Homo sapiens: one gene and its partners. The protein of the gene in region 2 purifies or fractionates together with the protein of the main gene of each other region. This does not show direct contact. Each region holds a gene or a part of one and is shown on either strand. Other genes may lie near its edges.

What was found. The genes of interacting proteins can lie anywhere in the genome.
Region 1: the proteins of RRM1 (region 2) and PEX7 purify together in Homo sapiens (co-immunoprecipitation; one large-scale study listed by IntAct). This does not show direct contact.
Region 3: the proteins of RRM1 (region 2) and CPOX fractionate together in Homo sapiens (co-fractionation; one large-scale study listed by BioGRID). This does not show direct contact.
Region 4: the proteins of RRM1 (region 2) and RAB14 fractionate together in Homo sapiens (co-fractionation; one large-scale study listed by BioGRID). This does not show direct contact.

The regions. Positions count from the first base shown.
Region 1 is NC_000006.12:136,839,437-136,843,091, reverse strand, and holds part of PEX7 (peroxisomal biogenesis factor 7), read right to left. Parts: intron 1-3,655. UniProt on the Homo sapiens protein: Receptor required for the peroxisomal import of proteins containing a C-terminal PTS2-type peroxisomal targeting signal. Specifically binds to cargo proteins containing a PTS2 peroxisomal targeting signal in the cytosol.
Region 2 is NC_000011.10:4,096,737-4,102,292, reverse strand, and holds part of RRM1 (ribonucleoside-diphosphate reductase large subunit), read right to left. Parts: intron 301-5,556; coding exon 212-300; intron 1-211. UniProt on the Homo sapiens protein: Provides the precursors necessary for DNA synthesis. Catalyzes the biosynthesis of deoxyribonucleotides from the corresponding ribonucleotides.
Region 3 is NC_000003.12:98,583,612-98,587,266, reverse strand, and holds part of CPOX (oxygen-dependent coproporphyrinogen-III oxidase, mitochondrial precursor), read left to right. Parts: intron 1-1,048; coding exon of another isoform or gene 1,049-1,049; exon of another isoform or gene 1,050-1,601; intron 1,602-1,607; coding exon 1,608-1,826; intron 1,827-3,655. UniProt on the Homo sapiens protein: Catalyzes the aerobic oxidative decarboxylation of propionate groups of rings A and B of coproporphyrinogen-III to yield the vinyl groups in protoporphyrinogen-IX and participates to the sixth step in the heme biosynthetic pathway.
Region 4 is NC_000009.12:121,181,370-121,185,024, forward strand, and holds part of RAB14 (ras-related protein Rab-14), read right to left. Parts: intron 2,030-3,655; coding exon 1,942-2,029; intron 1,592-1,941; coding exon 1,561-1,591; intron 205-1,560; coding exon 27-204; 3' UTR 1-26.

The sequences.
Region 1 (3,655 bases), on a different chromosome or scaffold from region 2:
GGGCACTGTTGAATCAGAACTTCTTGGCTACCTTAAGCCATGATATCAAGGAACTAAAGCTCTACCCCTGCTGGTTTCACCCTTTACTGGAGCTACATTTGGGCCTAGATTGATTCCACTGTGTTTTCATGAATTACCTATACACAGATCTTAAAGCCCCTCTCCACTTGTGAATTTCCATTTATCCATCAAGACGTGCCCCATTACATCCCTTACGAAATAAGCCTCCCCTGATAAGTCCTTCAATGAGTCATATGCTGCCTTCAACAGCAGCTCACACCTACTTCTAACTCAGCATTTACCATATTTTATTTACTAAAAAGAATGTTACATAACTCACATACCTGCTAGATTTTGGAGACTCCTAATGAGCAAAACATCTTGTACATCTATGTTCATCACAGTAAAATAGGCACTCAAACATTGGTTAAAATAATTTAACCAATTAAATTTTTCTTTACAACCTGAATCACTGCTAGGTAGGTACAGAGAACTACTAAGTAAATACTCATCATCAGCTCAGACTCCACTGCCTCCACACATTTCCAGTGTGATGCAGCAGGTGACACCTTATGACTACTCACCTTCTAAAACTGCAGGAGCCTCCACCGGCTCAAGAGAATCCAGCCTGAATCAACATCAAAGATAGAAGGTAAGAAAACCATGCTGATGGCATTGTTGCTGTCAGCTGTCTTCTGTTGCACAACCAAGTAGCAAGCATTAGGTCTCTATGACAGAGCTAAAGATAGGACACACATGGTGGTGAAGTTAAAAATGGGATCATAAAGAAGGAAATAGGCTGAGTGTGGTGGCTCACGCCTGTAATCCCAGCACTTTGGGAGGCCAAGGCGGGCAGGTCACTTGAGGCCAGGAGTTCAAGACCAGCCTGGCCAACATGGTGAAACCCCGTCTCTACTAAACATATAAAATTTAGCCAGGTGTGATGGCAGGCACCTGCAGTCTCAGCTACTCAGGAGGCTGAGGCAGGAGAATCGCTCCCAGGAGGTGGAGGTTGTAGTGAGCCAAGATTGTGCCACTGCACTTTAAGCTGGGTGACAGAGTGAGAACCTGTCTCAAAAAAAAAAAAAAGAAAAAGAAAAGAAAGGCAACTCAATACTATGTTTAAAATATTAGGACATGGGAAAGGAACTAACAGATCAGGAGACTGTGTGGGTTTTTTTTTTTAATTTAAAAAAAGAGTAATTACACCAGGCACGGTGGCTCATGCCTGTAATCCCAGCACTTTGGGAGGCCGAGGCAGGAGGACCGCTTGAGGCCACGAGTTCGAGACCAGCCTGGAAAATATGGCGAGACCCCCGTCTCTATAAAAAATTTTAAAAATTAGCCAGGTGTGGTGACCTATAACAGTAGTCCCAGCTACCCAGGAGGCTGGGGTGGGAGGATGGCTTGAGCCCACAAGGTCAAGGTCAAGACAGCAGTGAGCAGTGATCACGCCACTGCATTCCAGCCTGGGTAGCAGAGAAAGACCTTGTCTCAAAAACAAAACAAAACAAACTATAAACATAAGTACAAAAGGGGTGCTTGGATGGAAATTCAGCTTCGTGCTCAGAAGAGAAAGACTGAGGCAGGGCCCTGAGGGCTGGCTAAAATGTCAATAGGCAAAAAGCAGAGGTGAAACAGTAACCAGAAAACTTCCTCAAACACATAAATGGGAATATACAGCACCCTAGGGATCGGGGGTAGTGAACACTGCAAGATAACACCAAGGTTTTGTGCCTGAGGACTGTCAGTGATGGCAGCATTAACAAAAGTGAAAGACTGGAGGAAGGAAAATAATGTAATTTTATATATACTGAGTTTGAGGTGACAGCAAGACAGGGTTTGGGCATTAACCTCAAGCTCTGAAAAAAGTTCACAGCCAGAGAGATGTTTGAGAAACAGCTGAAAAGGGAAGAATGAATTCCATTATCCCAACTTCAATCAATTCACTCATCTATTCAACAAATATTTATTGAGCACCTACTATGTACTAGGCACGGGGGGAAAGGAGGTTACAATTTTAGATAAGACCAGCCCCCATGGATCTTATATTTTAGCAGCAGCAAACATGCTATAAATAAATGTATAATTTCAAGTTGCAATTTTTTTAAAAACTACAAAGAAAAAGCAGAGTAAGGAGAACAGAAAATAATGACAAGGGCAGGGGGTCACTTCTCAACAAAATGGCCAGGAAAGACCTCTCTGTGCAGAGACTTGAGTGCAGTTAAAGACTGAACTCTGCAGACCCGAGATGAAAGGCTCAGGTTACAGAGAACAGGGAAAGACCTTAACAGGGAACAAGCTTGCCAGATTCAGGGAAGAGCAAGGTTGAATAGCTGGGAGGGATAAGATCCTAAAGGGCTATGGCTAAGAATTTGTCTATGATTTCTCTTAAGAGGTTACAACCATCAACCATAAGTTACCACTTAGATTATAACATCCTTCTAACTGCTCTCCCCATCCATTTTTGTTTACCTCCAATCCATTATCCACACTGCATAAAAAGTAATCTTTAGAAAATACAAATTAAATGTCACTCCCCTGTGCAAAGCCTTTCAGTGGTTTCACACTATATGTAGCTCCAACTTAGCATCTTCGCTCAACATTATGTGAGATTCATCCATGCTGATTCTTACTACCCAAAGGTCAAAATCATGCAAAACTATGCATGACTTAGGGATGCATACATATGTAGTAAAAATAGAAAGAAAAGCAAAAAATATATAAATAGAAAATTCAGGCTAGTGGTTACTCCTGGGAAGAAGCGAGGAAGAAAAAAAAGCAGAGAGAAGAACGATAAGACTAGAAAGGGTAAGCAGGGGACGCTAATGGTATAGGTAATGTTTCATTTCTTAAGCTAGATGGTGAATATGTGTGTTCAATATACCATTTTTACATCTTACATGTATTTTATAATGTATAAAATATTTCATTGATTTTTAAAATCTGCAATGTCTTTCCACTGATCTTGGCACAATGGCCAAAACGCTGACAGCTCTAAGCACACAGGCTCTATCCTCTCTGGTCAAGCATGCTCTTTCATTTGCCTCTAACACTACTACCCTGGCCTCTCCACTTGAATAATTCATTCCAACTTCCCCTTTAGACCAAAGGATGCCCTCCCTGCCCCTTCCCCAGACAAATCCTCCCTTCCCATAACACTGCATACATTCACAGCGCTTACCACATTAGACATTAGACAACCAGAATCCTGCCTCCCCAGACAGTGCAAGGACCCCAGGAGGGTAAGGGCATGCCTAAGGTGTTTTGTCTTCCCAGCTAGCCTGGTACAGTATCTTGCACACAGTAGAGTTAATAAAAGTTTCTGGAATGAATGAAGGAAAAGAGAAACAAATCTGAATGAAAAGCACATCTTCTATTAGTCTCCTCTTCCATCTCTTCCTTATTCCCAACCTCCCCGTCCACACCCACTCAAATAGTGGGCATGGCAAATGGTCAAATTAAATATAAAAAGGAAGAGAGATATGCAGTGCCTGACTTTATGCTTTAAGAGCAGGGTCCTCTAGAGGCCTATCTGATTAAATTACTCTTGGCAGTGGTGAAGAAAATTAACCAGGAAAATGGGAAAAGAAAAAAACCCACCGCACAATGTTTTGTGCTGCTTTATGAAATCTGAACCTCATCAAAACCACAG
Region 2 (5,556 bases):
CACATTCATAGTTCTCTGAAAAGTGAGAACTCACAGGACAGAACCAAAATTAAGGAAAAAAAAATGTTTTAAGCAATGAATTCAAATTTTATATCGAAGGGCATAGCCAGAATACCAAAGTATATCAGGTGAATGAAGGTCCAGGGATAAGAGACAAATGGAAAGAAACACATGAAAGAAGGAACCCAAGATAAAAACCATATTTACTTACAGGATCAACAAAATCCATATTGAGTCCATAACAAAGCTTCTGGATTCGAGATGTAATTTTGTCAAACATGACTCGTTCTTGGCGGCCATCTAAAGAATCAAATCATGTTAGCAATTATTAAATTCATGTTAGCAATTATTAAGACTACAATGTCAAAGAATCAAATGTAATTAACATGTAAATTGACCAACATGAAGTGCTATTTCACAGAAAAGATTGAGGCCCCCTCAAAAGATTCATGAAGAGATTGTCTTCTCTGATGTCACCTTCAAAGAGTATGAATTCTATACAGACAGACGTTTACGGATAATTTCCTAAATTTTTCCCCCATCCCACATGGCAGCCAAAATTACCCTTTAAAAGTTAAACTCAGAATCATATCATTACCTCCTTCAAAACTCCTAATAGTGGCTTATGATCTCCAGAATAAAAGTCAAAATTGTTATAACAATCCACAGGCCAGGCCTAGTGGCTCACACCTGTAATCCCAGCACTTTGGGAGGCCAAGGGAGCGGGGGGGGGTGTGGATCACTGGAGGTCAGGAGTTCGAGATCAGCCTGATCAATATGGTGAAACCCCGTCTCTACTAAAAATACAAAAAATTAGCTGGGCATGGTGGCAGGGGCCTATAATCCCAGCTATTCGGGAGGCTAAGGCAGGAGAATTGTTTGAACCCAGGAGGCGGAGGTTGCAGTGAGCTGAGATCACGCCATTGCATTCCAGCCTGGACAACAAGAATGAAACTCCAACTAAAAAAAAAAAAAAATCCACAGAATCCTATACCACTTGTCCTGTGCACCCACTTCCCAATTTCACCTCCAACTCTCCCACCTTCCTTCCTATTGTACCTTGACAACTTGGCCTTCTTGCTATATATCTCCTTTAGGTCTTTTGCTCAATGTCATCACCTTCTCAATGTGGCTTTCCCTGATGATTCCATTTTAAATTGCAATGCCCCAAATAGGACCCTTGCTCTTCTTATCCCCCTTCCCCTTCTGTGCTTTTTCTCCATTGCACTTACCCCATCTGACATACTATATATTTTACCTAATATTTTTCATGATTTTGGACTTAGATTATATCTTTGTCCTTCTAGACAAAAAAGTCTTACTACTCTTAGTTTAACCTCAAATAGTAGCTCATCCGACCTTTATTTATTCTTACCAGGAATAGTGAATATATCCAACCACCAAACAGCCTTAACCTTAGACAAGCCACAAAACACAATCAGTCATTTCACAGATCTTCATTTGTAGAAAGGGGTTAATTATTATATCTATTTTACTTGCCTAATCAGTTTACTGTGACAATAAAATTAGATAAGGTAAAAAGTGCTTTTGTTGTAACAACTTTGGCATAGTTACAACTATACCTCGTTATAAAATAAAGCTGCTCCTATGGGGGAAAAAAAAATCACAGTATGTGATACACAATAGGCACTCAATAAATGTTAGTGTCTCACACTGATTTAGTTTTTGTCTCTTTTGTGCACCTACAATCCATTGTAACTATAGGCTGAGTATCCTTAATCCAAAATTCCAAAATCCAAAACACTCCAAAATCCAAAACTTTTTCAATGCCAACACAATGTTCAAAGAAAATGTTCCTTGGACCATTTCAGATTTTGGATTTTCTGATTAGGGATGCCCAACCAGTAAGTATAATGCGAATATTCCAAAATCTGAAACAAATCCAAAATCCGAAACACTTCTGGGCCCAAGCATTTTGAATAAGGGATACTCAACCTGAAGTAACCAATAAGAAACATGCTAAATATGTTTACATTTATTTGGCCCTCTGATTCACATCTGTATTCTCAAATTTAGTGCCTAGAACAAGGCAAGTTCTCAAACATTTGATGAAGAATAAATGAACAATAAGACATCACTATTAACCCATTATCACTAGAACAAGTTGCTTTTTCTTCTACACTGATATGTTAGCCCCTCTCTTTCTGATCACCATTGTGATAATTTTCTCATCAGGCTCACATCTGCAGCATTTAACTCTGAAATGGGGTAAATTAACTGGCTGGCACTGGGACTGAAACCTCAGTGCTCTAGCAATTGGATAACTAAGCAGGCAGGTAACTGCAAAGCAACATTAGCGTTCTGCAATTATACATGCAGTGGGGGGGGAAAGCAACTTAGCAAAAAGAAAATTCTACAACTGCCAGAAGTTCTGAAGTCAATCAGGAAACTGACAAAAAAAAAAAAGTGCATTGGTAATTATCTTAACTCACACTTGAAAATAGGAGGCAGACTAAAGATCTAAAGGTCCAATGACACACAGTTCTCTATTCTGTCATTCCACTTGGTTAGTTTTTCAAGCCAGATGTTGATTTTATCACATCACTAATCCCTGCTTCTCACTGCCTACATTATCCTCTTCTCTCAAGCAAAGCCTTTCTTAGTTTGGCCCCAGATCTCTTCAACTGTTCCCTGTGAAATATAAGTCCCAAGAGGGCTTCCCATTCCCATATCCACATCATTGCTTATACCTTACTCTGCCTAAAGGTTCCTCTTCCACCTTTCCATACATCTAACTCCTACTCACCCTCCAAATCTCACACCTCCATAAAACCTGCCTCAACCACTTTTAACTCACACTGACCTTTTCCTCTTTTAAAATCCTCTAGCCAGCAGGGCATGGTGGCTCAGCCTGTATTCCTAGCACTTTGGGAGGCCAAAGCAGGCGGATCACCTGAGGTCAGGAGTTCGAGACCAGTCTAGCCAATATGGTGAAACCCCATCTCTACTAAAAATACAAAAAAAAAAAAAAAAAAATTAGCTGGGTATGCTGTAATCCCAGCTACTCGGGAGGCTGAGGCAGAATTGCCTGAACCTGGGAAGCAGAGGTTGCAGTAAGCCAAGATCACACCACTGCACTCCAGCCTGGGCAACAGAGCAAGACTCCGTCTCAAAAAATAAAAAATAAAATTAAAAAATCCTCTAGCATACTAGTGTGATTTCCTCTTGGCTATAAACTGTCTTTCATTCTTCTCTCTTCAGGAAGACTTCCCTAATCCTGTAAGACCAAGGATGCGTGCCTTTTCCACAGGATACAAACTTTCTAATTCCCTCTGCCGAGAATGTTCAGGCCACAGATCTCACATTACTAGCTCTTAATACTATTTAGGGTTCAGCTCAAATGTTGGCTTCTCAGAGAAGCCTTTCCTGGCTACCCAATCCAAGGTTATTTTCTCATTCATCTTTATCACATGATCCTGTTTTACTATCATCTCATTAATCAGTATCTGAAATTAACTGATTATTATGTTTACTTCTTATTTCTTATATACACTTACCACTCCCACCCACACCAAGAAGTCAACTCAATGAGAAATGTAATTTAGCTTTGTTCACTGCAGAATCTCTAATGCCTACAACGGTTCCTAGCACAAAGAGGTGCTGAATAAATGCTTTATGAATAACTGAATGAATGGCCTCTACTGCCTATACTTTACCTATCAGAGTATTTATCATATTTTATCATATTACTTCTTTATTTGTCTATCTTTCTCAATTGATTGTAGGATCTTTGGAAGCTGGAACCATGTCTGCCTACTCATCACTGCAATCCCGGTGAACAGCACGGTATCCACAGAGTTGTAAAATAATATTAGCAGGCTGTGAATGGAATAGGAAGGAAGGAAGGAAGGAAGGAGGAAGGGACGGAGGGAGGGGGAGAGGGAGGGGAGGGAGGGAGGAGGGCAGGAAAGAAGGGAGGGAGAAAGGAAGGAAGGAAGCAAGGAGGGAGGGAAGGAAGGGAGGGAGGAAGAAAGGGAGGAAGGAAGGGAGGGAGGGAGGCAGGGATAGGGAAAGAATCTGGAATAAAAGAAAGATTAGAGTGCAAATGGATGCTTTCAAAGACATTATTTCGTAAACTTTTGTATCATTTTATGTGTATCCACATATATACACATGTCTGTAAAATGTTTTGTTTTTTACTGTGAGTTACAATCCAAAGTTTTGAAAATACTACACTAAATTCCAAAACAGTTTACAACTCAGTTAGCTACTTTGTCATTTACTGCAATGGTTCTCAATGTTTATTTTTTTAACCATAATCTCCTTGAGGAATGATACTCTCCCATTAGGAAAAATAGCTCAAGATAGCAGATGAAAAAAACTCATCTACTATTCTCTTCTATCTAATAATTTTCATATGGATTGTTCCTAAATCCCTAACAATTTTAAGTTCTTTGAAGATAGAGCTGCCTTCTCCATTACTGCCCTCACAGTGTTTAGCAAGACATTAGCATATTCAGTAGGTACTTCAAAGTCAACTTCCAGTTGCCCTTGTTATTAAAAATAACAAAAACTAGCCAGGCGTGGTGGCACACATCTGTAGTCCCAGCTACTGAGGAGGCTGAGGCAGGAGAATCTCTTGAACCCAGGAGGCAGACACTGCAGTGAGCTGAGATCACACCACTGCACTCCAGCCTGGATGACAGAGCAAGACCCCATCTCAAAGAAAATTAACAAAAACTGTAGGAGTTAGTCTGCTATTCCACTGACATGCCAAAAATAAGGGGGTACAAAAAAAGTCCAGAAAACCAAAAACCCTATGCATATTAAAAAACATTAAAATATAGAAACATAGAAATATAAAAAAAAAAAGAAACAAACAAATCTAAGTACATGTTGTATATTAAGTCTTGCTGAATGCTACAATGGCAGAATCTACAGCATGAACCATCTGGATCAAATTGTGCTCTATGAAGGAATGAGAAAATAAGCTCTGCTTTTTAGAGCTAGTTATAGCTAGCACTTTGTGGTTTTTTTTTTTTTTTTTTTTTTTGAGACAGAGTGTCACTCTGTCGCCTAGACTGGAGTGCAATGGCACGATTTCAGCAACCTCTGCCTCCCAGGCTCAAGCGATTCTCCTGCCTCAGCCTCCTGAGTAGCTGGGATTACAGGTGCAAACCACTACCGTCCGGCTAACTTTTGTGTTTTTAGTAGAGACGGGGTTCCACCATGTTGGCCCAGCTGGTCTCAAACTCCACACCTCAAATGATCCACCCACCTCAGCCTCCCAAAGTGCTGGGATTACAGGCGTGAGCCACCATGCCCTGCCACGCCAGGCCAAGGTAGCACTTTTTAAACGAAAGTATTTAGAAGTAGACTCTAAAAGTTCAAAATTCAACACAGGGTTGAATTTTACCCATTCTGGTCATCTAAGTCCATACATTTTCAATTCATCTTTGTTACTGACTTATCATAGACCATCCTAAACATCTCTCCCATATCTAAAGATTTAAAAAATAGATGCTCAAGCCAGGTGCGGTGGCTCCCAGCACTGTAATCCAAGCACTTTGGGAGGCTGAAGTGGGAAGAATGCTT
Region 3 (3,655 bases), on a different chromosome or scaffold from region 2:
GATATACTTTTTTAGACTATGTTAATAAAATGTGCATATAAAGAAGGCCAACAAGTCACGATTAAGGTGAATTCTACCTATGCGTCAGTTCTAGGGATTTGCATCTGTTGTTTTTTGTTGTTGTTGTTTAAGCAATTGAAGCTGTATTTAAGGTAACCTTTTAAATAGCTTTTAGTTTTTGTTTGAGCATGTTTTTCTATTTAAGGACCCTTATGCAGAGATTATCAAAAGAACTACTTTTAGGATATAAACTATTTTACAAGTTTAACAGTTAGGAAATGGCTTCTTTTTTGTTTGTTTGTTTGTTTGTTTGTTTGTTTTTTGAGATGGAGTCTCACTCTGTCGCCCAGGCTGGAGTGCAGTGGTGCGATCTCGGCTCACTGCAAGCTCTGCCTTCCGGGTTCACGCCATTCTCCTGCCTCAGCCTCCCGAGTAGCTGGGACTACAGGTGCCCACCACCACGCCTGGCTAATTTTTTGTATTTTTAGTGGAGACGGGGTTTCACCGTGTTAGCCAGGATGGTCTCGATCTCCTGACCTCGTGATCCGCCTGCCTCGGCCTCCCAAAGTGCTGGGATTACAGGCGTCAGCCACCGCGTCCGGCCCAGGAAATGGCTTCTTAGGAAACCTGTTCTAGTAGTCATAGAGGGGAAAAGACTCAAGAACAGATTAATAGTTTTATGTGCTGCCTCACAGGGTAAACTTTCATATGTCTGATATGACATATGAAATAATAAAAGATATCATCTGAACCTTTTTTTCCACCAACTTTTCCCTGTCTTTCATGCTATAGAACCATCAAATTTTATTTCTGAAAGAGACCTGAGAGATTGTTTATAGTACCTTCCTTTGGTGAATAAAGAACTCACTCAAGAGAGCTTGGATTTGCACCATGGTTGGTGTCATTGTTAGTGGAAGATTCCTGTCCTCCTGCCTCCTACAAAAGCAGCAGTGCTTCCGAAGGCAGCAGCTTATTCCAAGAAATACACTATCGATATTGGACTGTTTCTCTTTTCACTAAAGTTCTTAGAGTTTCACATCCTTTACAGAGACTTGTGTGAAATTGCCTGTTCGCCTTGAAAATAAGAGGATAAGCAGCCAGGCATGGTGGCTCACGCCTGTAATCCCAGCACTTTGGGAGGCCGAGGCAGGCAGATCACGAGGTCAGGAGATCGAGACCACCCTGGTTAACACAGTGAAACCCCGTCTCTACTATAAATACAAAAAATTAGCCAGGTATGGTGGTGGGCACCTGTAGTCCCAGCTACTTGGGACGCTGAGGCAGGAGAATGGCGTGAACCCGGGAGGCGGAGCTTGCAGTGATTCAAGATCGCACCACTGCACTCCAGCGTGGGGGACAGAGCAAGAGTCCGTCTCAAAAAAAAAAAGAAAAGAAAAGAAAAAGAGGATAAGCATTTTCTACCTTGGTGATATCTGCAAAAAATCTATCTGTCTAAAGTCCTCATTTCATTTTCATAGTTGGACAGCAAGTAAGGACACCATCCTGACATTAGTTGAGGATAGTGCTGTAACCTGAAAGGCTCACATTGATTTTCATGTCTGTTTTTTTCCATTTGATCCCTGGTTTGGCGCCGCTGTGTTTTCCAGGTGTGATGATTACTTCTTTATAGCCCATCGTGGAGAACGGCGGGGCATTGGTGGTATCTTTTTTGATGATCTTGACTCTCCGTCCAAGGAGGAGGTGTTTCGCTTTGTACAGAGCTGTGCCAGGGCTGTAGTTCCTTCTTACATTCCCCTTGTGAAAAAGCACTGTGATGACTCATTCACCCCCCAGGAGAAGCTGTGGCAGCAGCTCAGAAGAGGACGGTAAGTGACTGGAAAACGAATTCTTTCATGGCTAAGTGGGGGAGGTGGAGCAGCTCTTAATAATAGCGGGTGTTGTGTTGTCAGATACTTTGTAATAGTTGTGTTAATTTCTTTTCATAGATGAATATTAAGTGAATTAAAAGACATTGTGTAAAGTAATATTATAATTATAGCAAAGTTTATTTAATTCATCTATACATTAGAGACTCATAGTAGGCATGTAGTAAGTACTTCCTGAATTTAATTCTGCTGATTTCTCTTAGTCTTCTTGTAATACCCTCCAGCCTTATGTCAAGATGTAGACTTCATTTAATGTCTTTGCTGCTTTGTAAATTTGGAATCACACCTTTTTTCATTCATCTTAAAGATTTCACGGAAGTTATTTTAATGGAAATAATTTCAGAAATTTTGCTGGCCTCTACATTAGGCATTTTGTATCTGATGTTTTTCAACAAACCTGTAAGATAGGTGTAATCATCTTTTTTCAGAAAGTTAAGTCTGTTGCCCAAGAGACACAGCTGGTAAATTTAAGATCTCAGATGTGGAACTGGGTCAAAATGACCTCAAAACTTATAGTCTGTGTAGTGCCTAAAGTTAAGCAGCTGAAGCAGGTTTGTGCTTCTTACCATGATACTCACTTTAACCACCCTGTTCTGTGCAGTGAGCCTGGTGAGCTCAGTGGGGTGTCCAGTCTGAGGCTGTCTCCAGCCACGGTGTACTTGTAAATCCACTCCAAGTTATACAGCCTGCTGGCCCCAATCAGTTTCTCATTGCCACCTTAAATGCCTGTATACTACTGAAACATGGCTATAAAATGGATTTTCTCATTGACGTTAATTCTGTGTTAGGCAAAAGAAGCTTTGGGTACTAAAGAGGTAAAGCTTTTGCCTTAAAGAGGTCAACTTAAATAATGTTTCCAGTCTAAAGATAAACATTTGTGTATATCCTTTCTTATGACTGCCTGTGCTATCTGGTTCCCATTTATTAACTTGAAAAACATGAGAGTAAATTTTTAGAAATTTCTTAAAGAATGCATGTATTTTGGAACATGTTTTTTGTTTGCTTCCATAATTTCTTAAATATACCTTTACCACTCTTTCCTCCTTTCACTTGATACTTATTTTGGGGCCCCTGTGATGAGGCACTATCTTGGCTACCCGGTGGCTGTAACATGGACCTGCCAAAAAGAACCTCATAGTTTAGTGGGGAAGACATACCCAAGAGGACAATTTAGAACTCTGTGCAAAGTAAAGTATTCTAGTTTTGCACAAGATTTCGAAGGCAAAACTTGGCAGATTTTGTCAATACTAATTAGGTGAATCCTTTAAAACTTCATAGACAGGAGTAATGGTTTGTTTTGCGGTTTTGTTTTGTTTTTTATACATCGTTTGATGGCAGATCATTCTGAAAGTCGTTGTTGTGTATCATTGCATGTCTGGTGTCATGAGATAGGCAGAACTGTGGGGTAGTAGATTAATTTTCTATGGTATGGTGTGTGACTGTTCTTCAAAGACAGCTTCTTTCTGCCTCCCTTATCTCTGGTCCTTAAGATGGCAATAAACTCTGGGGCCTAAGATAACTCCAGTTCTTCTCTGGGGCTATCAACACTGTCTTTGGTTTCTAATACTGCAGTCATGACCAGTTTTCTGTATCCTTTTCACTTACTGTTACCCACTTTGCCTCGTCTTCACCCTGTCCAAACACCGGTCTCCCTTTCAGCAGTCAGTCTCATTCCCTTTTGACTTTACAGTCTCTTATTTGGCAATCTCATCCAGTTTCTTGCCCACAGTTACTGCTATCCTCCCCCAGACCTTGAACATCAGTCTTAC
Region 4 (3,655 bases), on a different chromosome or scaffold from region 2:
AATGAGGGGCCACAGCAAAGAGGTCACTAGCAGCCACAGCCTTCTCTCTGGGGTTGGGGTTCACTGGTTAGCCGGCCTCCCTGCGGGGCTGAAGGTTTGTGTTGTACACCAGACTCAGCAGCATTCAGATCCAAGCTTCCATCCTGAATGTTCTGATAGATTTTCTTGGCAGCCTCAAGGAAGGCATCTTCTACATTCTCTCCCCTAAGAGGCAATTGATAACTTTATTGGAGAACCACAGTTTTCTACAAAAGACAAGACACTGACCTTTTGCTAATCTTTAGTTAACTGCCATGATGTCTCCAACTTAACCACTGTCATCTAATAAGAGATTACCAGAACACTGAGCTAAGAGAACATGGAAAACTATTTTCCTTTTTTTTTTTTTTTTTTTTTTGAGACAGAGACTCACTCTGTCACCAGGCTGGAGTGCAGTGGCCCGATCTCAGCTCACTGCAACCTCCACCTCCCAAGTTCAAGCGATTCTCCTGCTTCAGCCTCCCGAGTAGCTGGGACTACAGGAGCACACCACCACGCCCAGCTAATTTTTGTATTTTTAGTAAAGACAGGGTTTCACCATGTTGGCCAGGGTGGTCTCGATCTCCTGACCTCGTGATCCGCCTGCCTTGGCTTCCCAAAGTGCTGGGATTACAGGTATGAGCCACCACACCCGGCCGGAAAACTACTTTCTATGGAAAGCATACATACATACGTGTACTGAAAGCCCTTTCTACAAACCCTATTTGGACAACTACATGTGTTATATGCAATCATTAAAATACTGTATGTTAATACACACCATGACAATTCAGATAGGTCATTTCTGTGATAACAGAGAGGATACTCCAAACAGAAATGAAATCTCTCTGAACATGCTGAAAAAAATTCCAAGAATAATATGGTCTGCTCAGCCAAGCATGAACTGAGCTGTTTTTAATCGGGTAATGGTGACATAATCATGCTTAGCCACGTTAACACCTCCATTCAGTTTTCTTTGGACTAATAGCACAGCTGAGACTAAACGAAAACAGGTTAGCCTCTCCTCACCACAAGAAATTTTTGGCCTAATAAATGAAGAACAATGATGGGTGTACCACAGTTCAATAGCAGACATGGAAGAACAATTAGAAAATGTTCACTATGCTTCTGAGTAGACACTATTCCCTTAAATCATGCTTTTTAATGTGATCAGAAGTATTACAGGAAGAACAGATTGACCAAGCTTGTCTGAGATGCCAAACTCAACCTCACTTGTGAAAAGTCAAACACTGTCATTTGGGAAAAGTCAAACACTTTTGAAATGTAAACAAAGTTTCATTTATTAACCTGGGTTACCAACAGGCATAATCAAGGTACAATCTTTTAAGTAACAAAAATTCATATTATTTTGAAATGTAAAAAAGGAAGCAAAGAGATGTTTGCTGTTCTTCCTGCAGTAAGCATTACACATTTATAGATAGTACTTTATATGTGTATATACATTATATACTTTTCATATATACGGTTCTACTTTGAGAAACTTGAATATAATTGAAATATCTGTATTTTGGTCACACTTACGTTTTTGCACTCGCTTCGAGGAACAATAAGCCTAAAAATAAAATTCAGACTATAATTAGGACACTTCAAACTAACTCACAAGTGCACTTCTTTAGTAACATCTGAAAAAGTTTCCCATCAGTTTTTAGTACTCCTCCCATAGTATTTTATGAAAAAGTATGTAAGTTTGAGGTGGAGAGCATCTTTATATTTGTCACTAAATAACTGTACTGCTCCAACATAAATCACACAGAAATAGAAACACATTGTTACTTCCTCATTCTTGAGATTTCTGAGTCTGCATTTAAAAAAAAAATGCAAAAAAAAACCAACAAAACTGTCAAGCCCACCTTTCCTTAAAAATTCTCCCAATTGTGACCATTAAGTCTTAAAGAAACTCACCATTTTCTTCAGCAAACTGTTTGGCTTCTTCATATGTAACATCTCTCTGTGCCTCCAAATCTGCTTTATTTCCTATGAGAATTATTACCTAATTTGTGATCAAAAGAAAGACACCTTGTAACAAAAGCAGTAATTTAAACCAACCATGCAAATTCTGAAATCCAAAAATCTTGATAGAAAAAATGACTGGGCCTAAAAAGAAAACCAAGTACTAGCAATTATCCACTAGACAGGGCTACAGATTCATGAAGTCATTACTACAAAGGACCTTAGCAATGATCTAGGTCAGGGGTTGACAAACTTTCTGTAAAGAATAAATACTATATTCTTCAGGTTTGTGGGCCTCATATGGTCTCTGTTACATGTTCGTTGCTGGGTTTTTTTGTTGTTGTTTTTAACAACCCTTTAAAAATTTAAAAATCATCCTTAGTTCACAAGCCAGTCAAAAACAGGCTGTGGGCTGAATGTGGCCCACAGGCCATACATACTTTGGTGACACCTGGTCTAGTCCAAAGATTACGATATAGCTGAGTAAGATTACTAAGGGTTCATGGACAAGCTCCAGGGGATCTGTAAATACCTTGAAATACTGTAAATACTGTAATTGTGGGCATTCCCTAGAGGAGAAGATTCATGGCTTCCATCAGGTTTTCAAACAGTTCTGAGATCCTCAAAAAGTTTGAAAGCCACTAGGTTCAACTCCTTTAGGCTATCAGTAAGGAAACTGAAGCTCAAATAAGGCAAAAGGACTTGCTGAAGGTCACTCAGTGAGTCAGTGGTAGGAGGACATTAGATCTCAGGTAGAAACCCAAACTGAGATCTTGAGACAAATACTATCCTACCCCACACTATCCCTAGAAAGGATTGAGTTTATAGTTAACAGTAACTGATAAGAGATGTCTATGTGTATACACAAGGGGCAGCTGGGAGTAGGGGTTTGGGGGCACGTATGCAGTAAGTTCAAATCCAAGGCAAAATATCACCCACCAACCTATATCCACCTTGGAACCATTCATACAAGTGAAGTTAGGCCAAAGTTAAAGGCAGCTCTGCAAAGTTGTAAGAAAAAAATATGTACCCTTGGGAAACAGCAAAGGGCTTTGGCCTTTACCTGGGGTGGGGAGGGGGGTTATGGATAAACTGTCTTTGTACATTTATGAGCTTATTTGACACCAACTGGTAAAATCCTTCCCTTTTTCCCCCTTCCAAACAGATATGGTAATCTAGATATGAACACTTTAGGAATGGATGGTTTCAACTAAAAGGCACTTCAGCCATTAACTTTTTTTCATGTAAAATTACAGCTCCTGGCTCTTCCACTTTCAAAAATGTGTGTCCATAAACCAAATAATCATTTTTATCTGAATGTAAACCTCATGCAAGGACAGTTAAGTAGTACAACAAAAGTGAGCATTCTTTAAACAGTGTGGACAAAGTGCCCACTGTGAAGGGGAAGAAACTTTCATATACTATCCATTAGTATTTTAAAAGAATAAAATAATGATACTTAAAAAGGAAATCAATTTATAAAAAATCAAGTCTGGTAAAGCCACAATGACTAGCATAGGGCCATTACAAGATAGGTACTCAAAACAAGAAATACTGCCCTGCTCCTGATTCCCTATGAATCTCCAAATAAGGCTTCTTATCTCCCTGAAAGGGAAGACATAAAGTGGCATGCTAATTACAGAGATACAAAACATGCCCACAACAA